Linked DNA regions of Homo sapiens: region 2 is linked to region 1. The links come from fine-mapping of genetic effects on gene expression. A gene starts in region 1. The other region holds a variant in brackets. All regions are shown on one strand. Distances are from middle to middle. Region 1 holds the start of B4GALNT3 (beta-1,4-N-acetyl-galactosaminyltransferase 3). Region 2 holds the start of LOC124902852 (a long non-coding RNA gene).

Evidence for each region.
Region 2: its variant is fine-mapped to the expression of B4GALNT3 in lung (GTEx, PIP 0.93).

What each region holds. Positions count from the first base shown.
Region 1 is chr12:457,189-462,557 of GRCh38, forward strand. B4GALNT3 (beta-1,4-N-acetyl-galactosaminyltransferase 3) reads left to right here and starts at 2,751. Exons shown (of 20, transcript NM_173593.4): 1 at 2,751-3,357. The coding sequence starts at 3,189. RefSeq lists an enhancer at 1,919-2,902.
Region 2 is chr12:506,443-511,811 of GRCh38, forward strand. The region is part of intron 1 of B4GALNT3 (beta-1,4-N-acetyl-galactosaminyltransferase 3); the gene reads left to right. LOC124902852 (a long non-coding RNA gene) reads right to left here and starts at 1,728. Exons shown (of 3, transcript XR_007063150.1): 1 at 1,550-1,728; 2 at 1,406-1,513; 3 at 1,283-1,333. RefSeq lists enhancers at 2,923-3,496, 4,340-4,986. The variant G/C (reference allele first, on the strand shown) is at 3,182.

The DNA.
Region 1 (5,369 bases):
CAGTGAAAACCATCAGAAGAACTGGTGAGTAGCCAGGCAAATTGACACTGACAATGAATGGACATTTGTGACAATATATTATGCCACCATGATACCTCAATCCACATACTTAGTTCTGGAGCTCAGCTATTTGGGAAATTTGGGTCTCAAAATTCAGATCTTCCCCTGCTGTGACATCACCAGGAGTCAAAAAGGGATGTGGAGAAAGCGGGGTCTGAATGTGAGGGATATCTCAGTGCCAAGGCGTCACCCACAGAAGAGAAGGGAACAGAAGAGGGAGAGAGGAGAGCCACAAGAATGTCCTGGCCTCTTTTCTCTTCGACTCCTGGCACCTCTCACCATAAGCTGGAAAAGTAATGATCTTCTCAAGTTATAAAAACAAAGTAGAAATAAGAGGAGGATAAAAAATCAAGAGGTACAGGGTGATCTCCTTCTTCTTCTTAATCTCTTTGGACCATAAATTTGGCCTTTAAACTGTCAGATTTCTTTTCCTGTGGACTATCTTTTTTCCTCAACTAAACAGCATGCTTCTTGTTTTAGATCTCTCCCAGTTCCTACATAATAGATGCTTCAAGCATTTGGTTGACCGAAGTGATTGCATGAGCTTTCTCAGTCTTGAGGAGAGAATTGTGGCAAGGCTGCCACCTGTTTCCATGACAAAGTGTTAAAAGTGACTCAACCTAAAATCCAGTTGGGTTGCCCTTAGTAAGAGAGGGACTCTATTTACAGGGCCCGGTCACTTCCCACTTGACTCAGCCGAGCTTGCACAGGCCGTGCACACACTGGCTGCTCCTATCTTGGACTTGTGGAAAGAAAGAAGAACATGAGAAGTACAGGAATCTGTGGCTTTGGAACTTCACAGAGACCTTTCCCAGGGGCTACAATTAGAGAATTGTCCTTTGGATTCACCCTTTTTGCTAAAGAACTGCAGTGAAAGTTCTGGAAGATGTTTGCTCAAAGTGCTACCCCCATCCTCAAACCTTCCTAAGTGCTAAGTGGACATTGTACCACCCACTGGAAATGCAGCTCCCATTTTTGAAGCCTTACAGTGAGGTTGGGAAAACAAGACTCACACACTCCAAGTAAGTTCCAACATATCAGATGGTGAGACAGATGGCAAGTTCTACTAAAGCTCCAGAAAGGAAGGAGTTGCTTAGGACTTGGCTGGTCCAAGAAAGCTTTATAGAATCTGAAATGGACCTTGGATAAAGGGTACAAGTTGACCAACTAGAAAAGAAAATGTGTTGGAGGGTAGTGAATAAACTCGTTTTAGCTGGAGCAGGTTTCATGTGGTCACATAAAGTTGGAAAAGGTTCTGGAAGGCCCTGAATTCTGGATTTACAGTGTGTATCTTAATCAATAAGCATTGGAAGCCATTAAATATTTTTGAGCAGGTGTGTGACTACATACGGGATTTTTTTTTTTTTTTTTTTTTTTTTGAGACAAGGTCTTGCTCTGTCACCCAGGCTGGAGTGCAGTGGCATGATTGTGGCTCACTACAACCTTACACTCCTCCCACCTCAGCCTCCCGAGTAAGTTAGGACTACAGGTGTGTGTCACCATGCCTGGCTTTTTATGAAGACCATCTGGTGGTAGTGGACAGGATGCGATGGGAAGCTTGGAGTTGGGGAGGCTAATTAGGAAAAGTCCTGTAGAAACTATTGAATATCCAACTGAGGTGAGAACAGAGAGAAGGGAAACATAGTTCTCAATTCTGTGAGAACCTCTGTCTTGGAACAGTACTTGTGTGATATTCATTTGATTTTAAAATGTCCAGGAACACTTTGATCCTTCACTTTTCCCATAGTCTCCTGACCATTTTTCCCAGAAGAGATAATGGAAAAGAAAACTGCAGTATAACTTGCTGAGTGACCTGGGGCAGTTATTCTGCCCCTTGATACTTTATCTAATTTAAATCAGATAATAATGCTTTACCTGCCTGAAGGCAGAGGACTGGAATACTGATTTTTTTTTTTTTGAGACAGGGTCTTGCTGTGTTGCCCAGGCTGGAGTGCACTGACGCAATCACGGCTCACTGCAGCCTTGACCTCCAGAGATCAAGAGATCCTCTTGCCTCAGCCTCTCAAAGTGCTGGGACGACAGCCGTGAGCCACTGTGCCTGGCTTATCTTGCTGATCTTTTCAACTCTAAGAGTGAATACTTTTCTTTTCTTTTTAAAATTCTTTTTCGGAACCCTCAAACACCTACTCTCTTCAAACAGCCATTCCAGCCCAGTCTGGGGAAAACTGCTTGCTGGGGTTCACCGTGGGGGCTGTACGACTTCCCCAGCGCCTCTCGGAGATGTGGTTCAGGCTGGGAAGAAAGGTCTTCAAATCTCAACTGGAAAACGAAGCTATGTCTGCGTTAAGCGTCCAGTGGCTCCCGTGATATTTCACGCCTACTGGTTTCGTCAAGCAGGGAGTCGGGTCGTTGCTGTTGGCGACGAAAGGCTCTGAGGCTAAAGCCTTGGGCGTCGCCCAAACCAGCCTCTACTTCGCTTCTGCCTAAAACCACACCGTTAGGCGCCTGGGTGGTGACTCGGTTTCCCTCGGTCACCCAGAGTCCGCATCATCACTCGCCCCCTCCTCATCCCACCCGTTCCCAGTCGGGGGAGGCACCAGGCACCAGTTCTCTGGCCCCACCTCTCGCTCCCCTAGGGAAGCCGAATGGCCTCTTCGCGTCCCTGGCTTCTCGGGGGCGGAGCCCACCTGTGCCCGGGGCGGGGGCGGGGGCGGGGCCGGGGGCGGGCCAGGTTCCGCGAGCAGGAGAGCCCAGAGCCCGGAGCCCGGTCCGGGGCTGGCGGGGGCGCGGGCGGAGGCAGGCGGGCGGGCGCCGGGGAAGCCTCCTTCTGGGCAGCGAGTGAGGGCGGGCGCGCAGGGAGGGAGGGCGGCAGCGAGCCTGCGACGGGAGAGGCGTGGGGAGGAGAGCCCGGCGCGGAACACACGCGCGGAGGAGGAGCCGGGCTCGGCTCCCGGAGAGACCTGCTGGGCGCCCGCGCAGCCCGGAGACCCCTCGCGCCCGGAGCATGAGCCCGAGCCCCGCCGGAGAGCGGCCGGGAGAGACGGCCTCGGCGCAGCCCTGAGACGCTGGGCCGGGACGCGGGGCGCCCTGGGCGCGGGGCCCGGCCGGGGGGCGGCGGCTCGGGGGGTTGGAGCCCGCGCTGGCGGCGGCCGCCTCGGCGCAGCGCCATGGGGAGCCCCCGGGCCGCGCGGCCCCCGCTGCTCCTGCGCCCGGTGAAGCTGCTGCGGAGGCGCTTCCGGCTGCTGCTGGCGCTCGCCGTGGTGTCTGTGGGGCTCTGGACTCTGTATCTGGAACTGGTGGCGTCGGCCCAGGTCGGCGGGAACCCCCTGAACCGGAGTAAGTAGCACCCAGGGGAGGCGAAGGGCGCGGGGGTGGGCGGCGGCGGCGGCTCCTGCGTTGGGGGGACCCGCCTCTCATCCCATCCTCAGACCCGATTTCCCACCCATTTCTCCCTCAGGTGCCCGGCGTCGCCCCGCGCGTACTCGGGGAGAGCTGCGGGCGGGGGAAGCCGCGGGGCCGAGCGCAGAATTCCCGAGCCCGGGCCTGCCCGCCGGCCACGTGGGTCCGGGGCACCCTGGGGGCTCCTCGCGTCTCCCCTCGGAGAGCGACCCGGAGAGAGGCTCCCCGCCCGTCCCGCCGAGACGCTGGCGGAGACCGGGCCCCTCCAGCCGCTCCGGGCTTGCGGTTCCCGGGGAGGAGGTCCGTGGGGTCCACGCGCGAGCTAGGGATTCGGGTGCGGGATGCCCTCGGCCGTCCACACCCAGGCGCGCGCTCCAGTCCGCGCAGCCCAAACTTTGCCCACCGCCTTCTGTTTGGCTCACTCCGTTTCCTCTCCTGCTGCATCTTCTAGGGGGGTTCTTTTTTACCATACCTCGGAGAGTCCCGTCTCTTCCCCGCTTCCCATACGTCGCTCCTCTCCCAGCCTCCGTCCTCGGCTCTTTGAATCTCCCACCTCCTCGCTGCGCCCTCTTTCTCCTGTTCGGGCCGCCCCTTCTGCCACTTTTCTGAACCCTGAGCAAATCTACCAAACTCCCCAGTTTAAGGAGATGATGGACAGCACAGTGGACCGGGCAGCAGGTAGATTCCTACTTCTGTTTTTAACTTAGCCAAAGCCACTTAATATTTCCGTGCCTCAGTTTCCTCCTAGGAAAACAGGAGAGCGTGGTCTCTTTGCCTTTTTACATCAATAGGTATGGCTGTGCGAGGTGGTTTTCAACGTACTGTGGATGGGCCTAACAAAGTAAAACTGACAGTGACAGGGGCCGTAAAAGATCCTGTAATAGTTGGGAAAAGAAATGGAGAAACTCCCGTTACTACCAGGTGCCCAACGCAAGCCCGGGGAGCCGAGGTTCAAAGTTCTGGCACGTGGCCTCCCATGCCTTCACTTTCCTCCCGCTTTGGGGAAACTCGGACAGAGTGGCTGAGCAAGCAGCTGAGAAGATACTCTGACTCTGACCTGTCGTCGTGTCAGCTTCTCTACCCAGAGTTGGGTGTGGTGCTGTGCCTTCTCTTGTGGCCAAAGAGAGAGAATTACTAGGGACAGTCGCTGAGCTGGTTCAGGTTGGAAATGTATATTTATGGCCTAACCTTTCTGTGGTGATGGAAATCATTCCGGCTGTGAGTTAGAGGAGACTGGCTCTGCCACTAACTAGCGGGGGAATCAAGGGAAAAACGACAGCTTCTCAGGTGAAAATGAGGCCTTTGGTCCAAATGATCTCCAAGGTGTCTTTCAGTCTGGATACGAAGACTGATCTGCACGCAAGCGTTTCCAGGGCCAGAGAGCTCAGCACATCACCAGGAAGCCATAGCTTCCACCCCGGGGCCACGACTCCAAGCAGCAGAGCCCCTTCCTCTGATGACCAAAATCTGCCGCCCATAGTGAATTCTTCCCTCCTCTGGGCCTTGTTCTTCCTTCTGAAAGACAGAGAGTGAATCTATTCTCCCCCGCCATGGCCACTCAGGCCCAAATGGATGAGCTCCTTTGGAGTGTGTGTGGGTGGGGGCCTGGGAGGCGACACCTCCTCCCAGTGTAGCCATCATTTTGTTTAGCCAGTGGGATCTTGTGCACAAATTAAAAACAGAGAGAAAGGCAGTTGCTTTGTGACCTTGGAATCAGTAACCTCCCTTTCTCCCTCTCCTCACTTTTCTTTTACCTCCGGTGTGTTTTCTCCCCAAACCTGGATCTAGTTTGCCACAGTCATAATCTGACACTCTGGCCCTCGACCTCTGCCTCTGTCTCCCGTGGGCCGCCTCATTCCGAGCCATCAATTCTTGAGTCTGTTGGGTTCCCCTCCCAGAAGAATCTTAACTCTCTGACTGGGTTTCCTTATTTTTTATTTTCTTTTCCA
Region 2 (5,369 bases), 49 kb after region 1:
CTTTTTTCTACTTAAAAACATTTTATTTCTATTTTTTAAAATTCAAAGGTATATAATATTAAAAGGTGCTTTCACAGAAGTAAGCACCATAAAAAATTCAATATGCCTTCTAAGTGTTTTCTATGCCTCTGTGATGCCTGTACACATACACATAGAGGCTCCTATACTTACAAGTGCATTTTTATTTATTTTTTATTTTATTTATTTTTTTTGAGACAGAGTCTCACTCTGTCACCCAGGCTGGAGTGCAGTGGCGCGGTCTCGGCTCACTGCAAGCTCCGCCTCCCGGGTTCACGCCATTCTCCTGCCTCAGCCTCCCGAGTAGCTGGGACTACAGACACATACCACCACGCCCGGCTAATTTTTTGTATCTTTAGTAGAGACGGGGTTTCACCGTGTTAGCCAGGATGGTCTCGATCTCCTGACCTCGTGATCCGCCCGCCTCGGCCTCCCGAAGTGCTGGGATTACAGGCGTGAGCCACCGTGCCCGGCCAAGTGCATTTTTAAATGAATTTTTAATTTTAGAATAGTTTTTCATTTACCCAACATTGCAAAGGTAGTCTGGAGAGCTCTCACTTTGCTCACACCCAGTTTCCTCTATTATTGGCATCTTGCATTAAGCCCCGGTACATTTGTCATGATTAATGAACCAATATCGGATGTTATTATTAACTCAAGTTCATACTGTATCCTGAATTCCTTTCAGATATCCCTTTTCTGTTCCTAGACCTCTGTAGTCATTGGGTCTCCCTAAGTTCCTACTGGCCATGACAGATTTAAGCGTTTTTTTGATAGTGTCACTTTTGTGATATATATGGCAACCTTTTTTCACATAACTATATGTTTTGAACACCTTTCTGGGTTAGTGTGTGTGGCCTTCCACACCCTTTTAACTCACCACAGTGTTCTGTTGAGTGGCTTTACCCCATCATTTTACACTGCCCTTGGCACAGAGCCCCCGTCTGGAAGTGTCACTGGGCCTGGGTGCTGTCTGGTGGATTAGACAGACGCTTCCACTGTCTTGGAATTTGGACACTGTGGGAACAGAGAACATGGATGTAAATGACCTGACAGAGCTCAGAGAAAAGGAGCCACGTGGCCTGGGGCACTGCTGTTGTGGCGACCCTTCACCCCACGCCCTCCACCCTACATCCCTCACCCCACACCCTACGCCCTGCGAGTGGCTCTGTGTTTACATACAAGAGTTTACATCTGTGGTGGAAGCACTTTCTCACAAAAGGGTAGGGCTTATTCTAGGAGGCCCTACCAAAGAAAAGCACTAGGTAGCAGCATTCCAGCTGTAGGGCCCGTGACTGTGGCATGCGGAACATTCCTGCCCCTGGAAATCCAGTAGTAGCTTGGTGGACGTCTGTCCCTGGAAATCCAGTAGTAGCTTGGTGGACACCTGCCCCTGGAAATCCAGTAGTACCTTGGTGGACACCTGCCCCTGGAAATCCAGTAGTAGCTTGGTGGACACCTGCCCCTGGAAATCCAGTAGTAGCTTGGTGGACACCTGCCCCTGGAAATCCAGTAGTAGCTTGGTGGACACCTGTCAGGAGTGCTTGAGTAGAGCGTTGATACTAACCTGTGAAAGAAATTTCTCATGATCATCCATTGTAACTGGAAGAGATCTGAAAAATGACTCGGCCCAAGGTCCCACAGCCAGTGGAGACAGAATGTCTTCTCTTACTGTCTTTTCCGCTGGCCCTGCCAGCCCAGACCTGTCCCTAGGGGGACATCCAATTCATATTCGTTAATGAAGAGAAAGCTTCCAGATCCTTCAAGGTGTCTCTGTTACCTCAGAAGGTCCAGTGCATATTTTGAAACAACTTACTTTTGTTTTTTTTAGACAGGGTCTTGCTCCATCACCCAGGCCACCCAAGCTGGAGTTCAGTGATGCAATCATGGCTTACTGCAGCTTCGAACTCCCAGGCTTGAGCAATCTTCCCACCTCAGGCTCTTGAGTGCCTGGGACTACAGGTGTGTGCCACCATGCCTGGCTAATTTTTAAAAATTTGTTATAGAGATAGGGTCTTACTACATTGCCCAGGCTGGTCTCAAACTCATGGTCTCAAGCAATAAAACAGCTTTTTAATGTTTAAATTATACCCGAGGTTTGGTTCTCTGCAGATGTCCCCCAGAATTGGGCACAGCCTCCGATCGGCCTTATTCCTCTCACTTAATATTTGTCACTATTCCAAACCCCATGTTCAACACTTCACCCATTACCTTTTCCCTCTGACCTCTGATTTGCACAGGCCCTTCCAGCAGAGCTCCAGGCTGTTCTTGCCCAAGCAGAGATTACAAACATACTACTTTGAGGACTGACCCTCCCAGACTTACCACTTCAGCCGAAGTAAGGGAGAACTAGACAACTCTCTTTGTCTCATGCTACAAAGTGCCCCAGGAGGCCTTTCATACACAATTATTTTTCAGTAAGGAGCCAGGGAACCAGGGTCTTTTCCTCTCATGCACCTTGTGAGGTTGGCAGGACAGCGTGTGACTCATGCCTGGACAGAGGCGCATACCTTTAACAGCCTTGCTGGGGAGGTGCCCCACTTAGGAGTGGTGGAGATACACTCTACTGGTTTTTCCTACCCAGCAGGTGTCTAAGACAGACACACTCAGACAACACTGCTTTCCCCATCACTGCCTGTCATCCAACACTTCAAAGATGATGGACAACGTGTCTGAAGCTGATGGGGCGGAGGACCCCTGCACACCTGCACCTACTAACCTACTGCTGTACCTTCGCCCCACCCCCAGCCCCCTTTGAGAGCTCAGATCCCGCCTAGGAGGGGATGGATGGGCTTGTTAACAGCTGACAAGTGCTCTGCAAAATGCAGCTGTTTAATCATAAATGAACATTAGAAGGTGGCCTGGAGCCACTGTGCTTTAGGAAACTCATGCGCGTGGAGAGGACAGGAGGAAAGGAGATTTCCAGGGCAGGAGAAACTTGGGAAGCAACACTGAATGGGAAGAGAGGGAGGCTTTCTAGGGGATTTAAATGATACTGAAACCCGGATACGGAATAGGAGAAAAAATACCAACTTGCTCTCAGGGTGTCTTTACTCTCCCCAGTGCAGATTTCATTGACCTAAATCAGGTCTCTGCTCCTATTTGCTGGTACCTAGTTCAAGAGAGTCTTATAAATACACAAAGCCGGAAATGCCTGGGTAGG[G/C]GGGTGGCAAGAGCATGCGGTTCCACTCCAGGACAGGATCTGACTCAAATCACACTTCCCTCCTGGATTCCAGACTGTCAGGAGGGATGCCTCCGAGGTGGTGTTTGGAAGGAGGTGCTGAGAGCGGAGCTGGGTTATTCTAAGCGTGGCCCAGGGAAGATCTTGCCAGACTTGTTAATGTGTGACCCCACCCAGTGCCATGCTCAGCAAGGCAGAGAAGTGTGCTGTGGGTGGTGGGAGCAAGAAAGAGAGGAGGCCAGGACATCTCTATTCCACACATACCCTGTTTCATCCCTTGCTGCATTTCACTAAAATTATCCACTCGCCCCTACGAGACCTGCTGTGTCCTCCTTGAGTCCTTGTTTGGCATACCTTTGTTCCCTTCCATGGCCGAGTGAGTTCAGTCCACATTCATTGAACTGAAAGCTCACAGGTCTTGGAGCCTGGAGAAATAATCGGAACCATTCCCTTTCGTCTCCAGGCAAGATGAGCGATGGACCCAGGTTGCCTAACCTAGTTAGCTGCATGACACTCCAGAGCATCCAGCTCAAAGCAGGCATTGACAGGGATGGGGCACCCAGAGAAATGGCGCTGGTGCTGCTGTAGGGGTAAGATGTAGCAGCAAGGGGCGGGCAAGAGGGCTCCAGATGATTTCTGCCATGCTGAGCTAGCTGCCTGCTGGCTTTGTAAGCAGTGGAATAAGAAGACTATTGTGTCAACTCTTTGAGGGGGTGTGGCCTTCCTTGGGGTGAGAAAGCACAATGGGAAGGGCTAGCAGCTCCCCCGATCCTCTTCCTACTGTGACCTGAGAGACACTCCATGGGGGGGTTGGACGCTGGGGGGCTGGTCAGGGGAGTTGGCTGGGCTGGGAGGGAAACGGGCCCTTTCAAGAGCAAGTCAGACTCTGGTGAGCTGTTTACCCGCCTCATGCCCAAGGGTGCAATGTGAGTCATTTAATTTAATTGGTTTAATAAGTAAACGGTCTGGGTACAAAGAGGAGGGGGTTGGGTATGAGAGGGAGGGGCGGGGCAAACCCTGCAGAGCTGCTTTGGAAAGAAACCTGTTGCCAGCCCTCTAGGGATGGTCACAATTAAACAGGGAGTGGAGATGCTTTGGGAAGTAGGGAGAAGGGAGAGCCCCAGATGTTGAAGTGGAAAGAGGAGTAGAGGCTATAAGTCGGCCAGCCTCAGATTCTCAGTGCCCATCTGAGTATTCGATTCACTGGTGCTGGTATATCCACAGGGCTGTGCAACCATTGCCACTACCTAATTCCAGAGCATTTTCCTCACCCTAGAAAGGAACCTCACCCATTATCAGTCACTCCCAATTCTCCCCACCTCCAGCACTGGAACCACGACTCTCCTTTTGGTCTCTATGGATTTGCCTATTCTTTTTTTTTTTTTTTTTTTTTTTTTTTTTTTTTTTTTTTTTTGAGACAGGGTCTTACTCTGGTGCCCAGGCTGGAGTGCAGTGGCAGCTCACTGCAATTTCTGCCTGCCAAGCTCAAGGTATTCTCCCACCTCTGCCTCCTGAGCAGCTGAACTACAGGCGTGTGCCACCACGCTCGGCTAATTTTTGTTTTTTGTTTTTTTTGGTACCTTCCACCATCCACCTTCCACCTTCCGCCTTCTGCCTTCCGCCTTCCACCTTCGACCTTCTTCCACCTTCGACCTTCCACCTTCCACCTTCCGCCTTCTGCCTTCCACCTTCCACCTTCCTTCCACCTTCCACCTTCCACCTTCAACCTTCCGCCTTCCGCCTTCCACCTTCTGTCTTCCACCTTCCTTCCACCTTCCACCTTCCACCTTCTTCCACCTTCCACCTTCCACCTTCTTCCACCTTCCACCTTCTTCCACCTTCTTCCACCTTCCACCTTCCACCTTCCACCTTCTTCCACCTTCCACCTTCCACCTTCTACCTTCCTTCCACCTTCCACCTTCCGCCTTCGACCTTCTTCCACCTTCCACCTTCCGCCTTCCACCTTCGACCTTCTTCCACCTTCGACCTTCCACCTTCCACCTTCTTCCACCTTCGAGCTTCCACCTTCCGCCTTCCGCCTTCCACCTTCTGTCTTCCACCTTCCTTCCACCTTCCGCCTTCCACCTTCCTTCCACCTTCCACCTTCCACCTTCTTCCACCTTCCACCTTCCACCTTCTTCCACCTTCCACCTTCCACCTTCTTCCACCT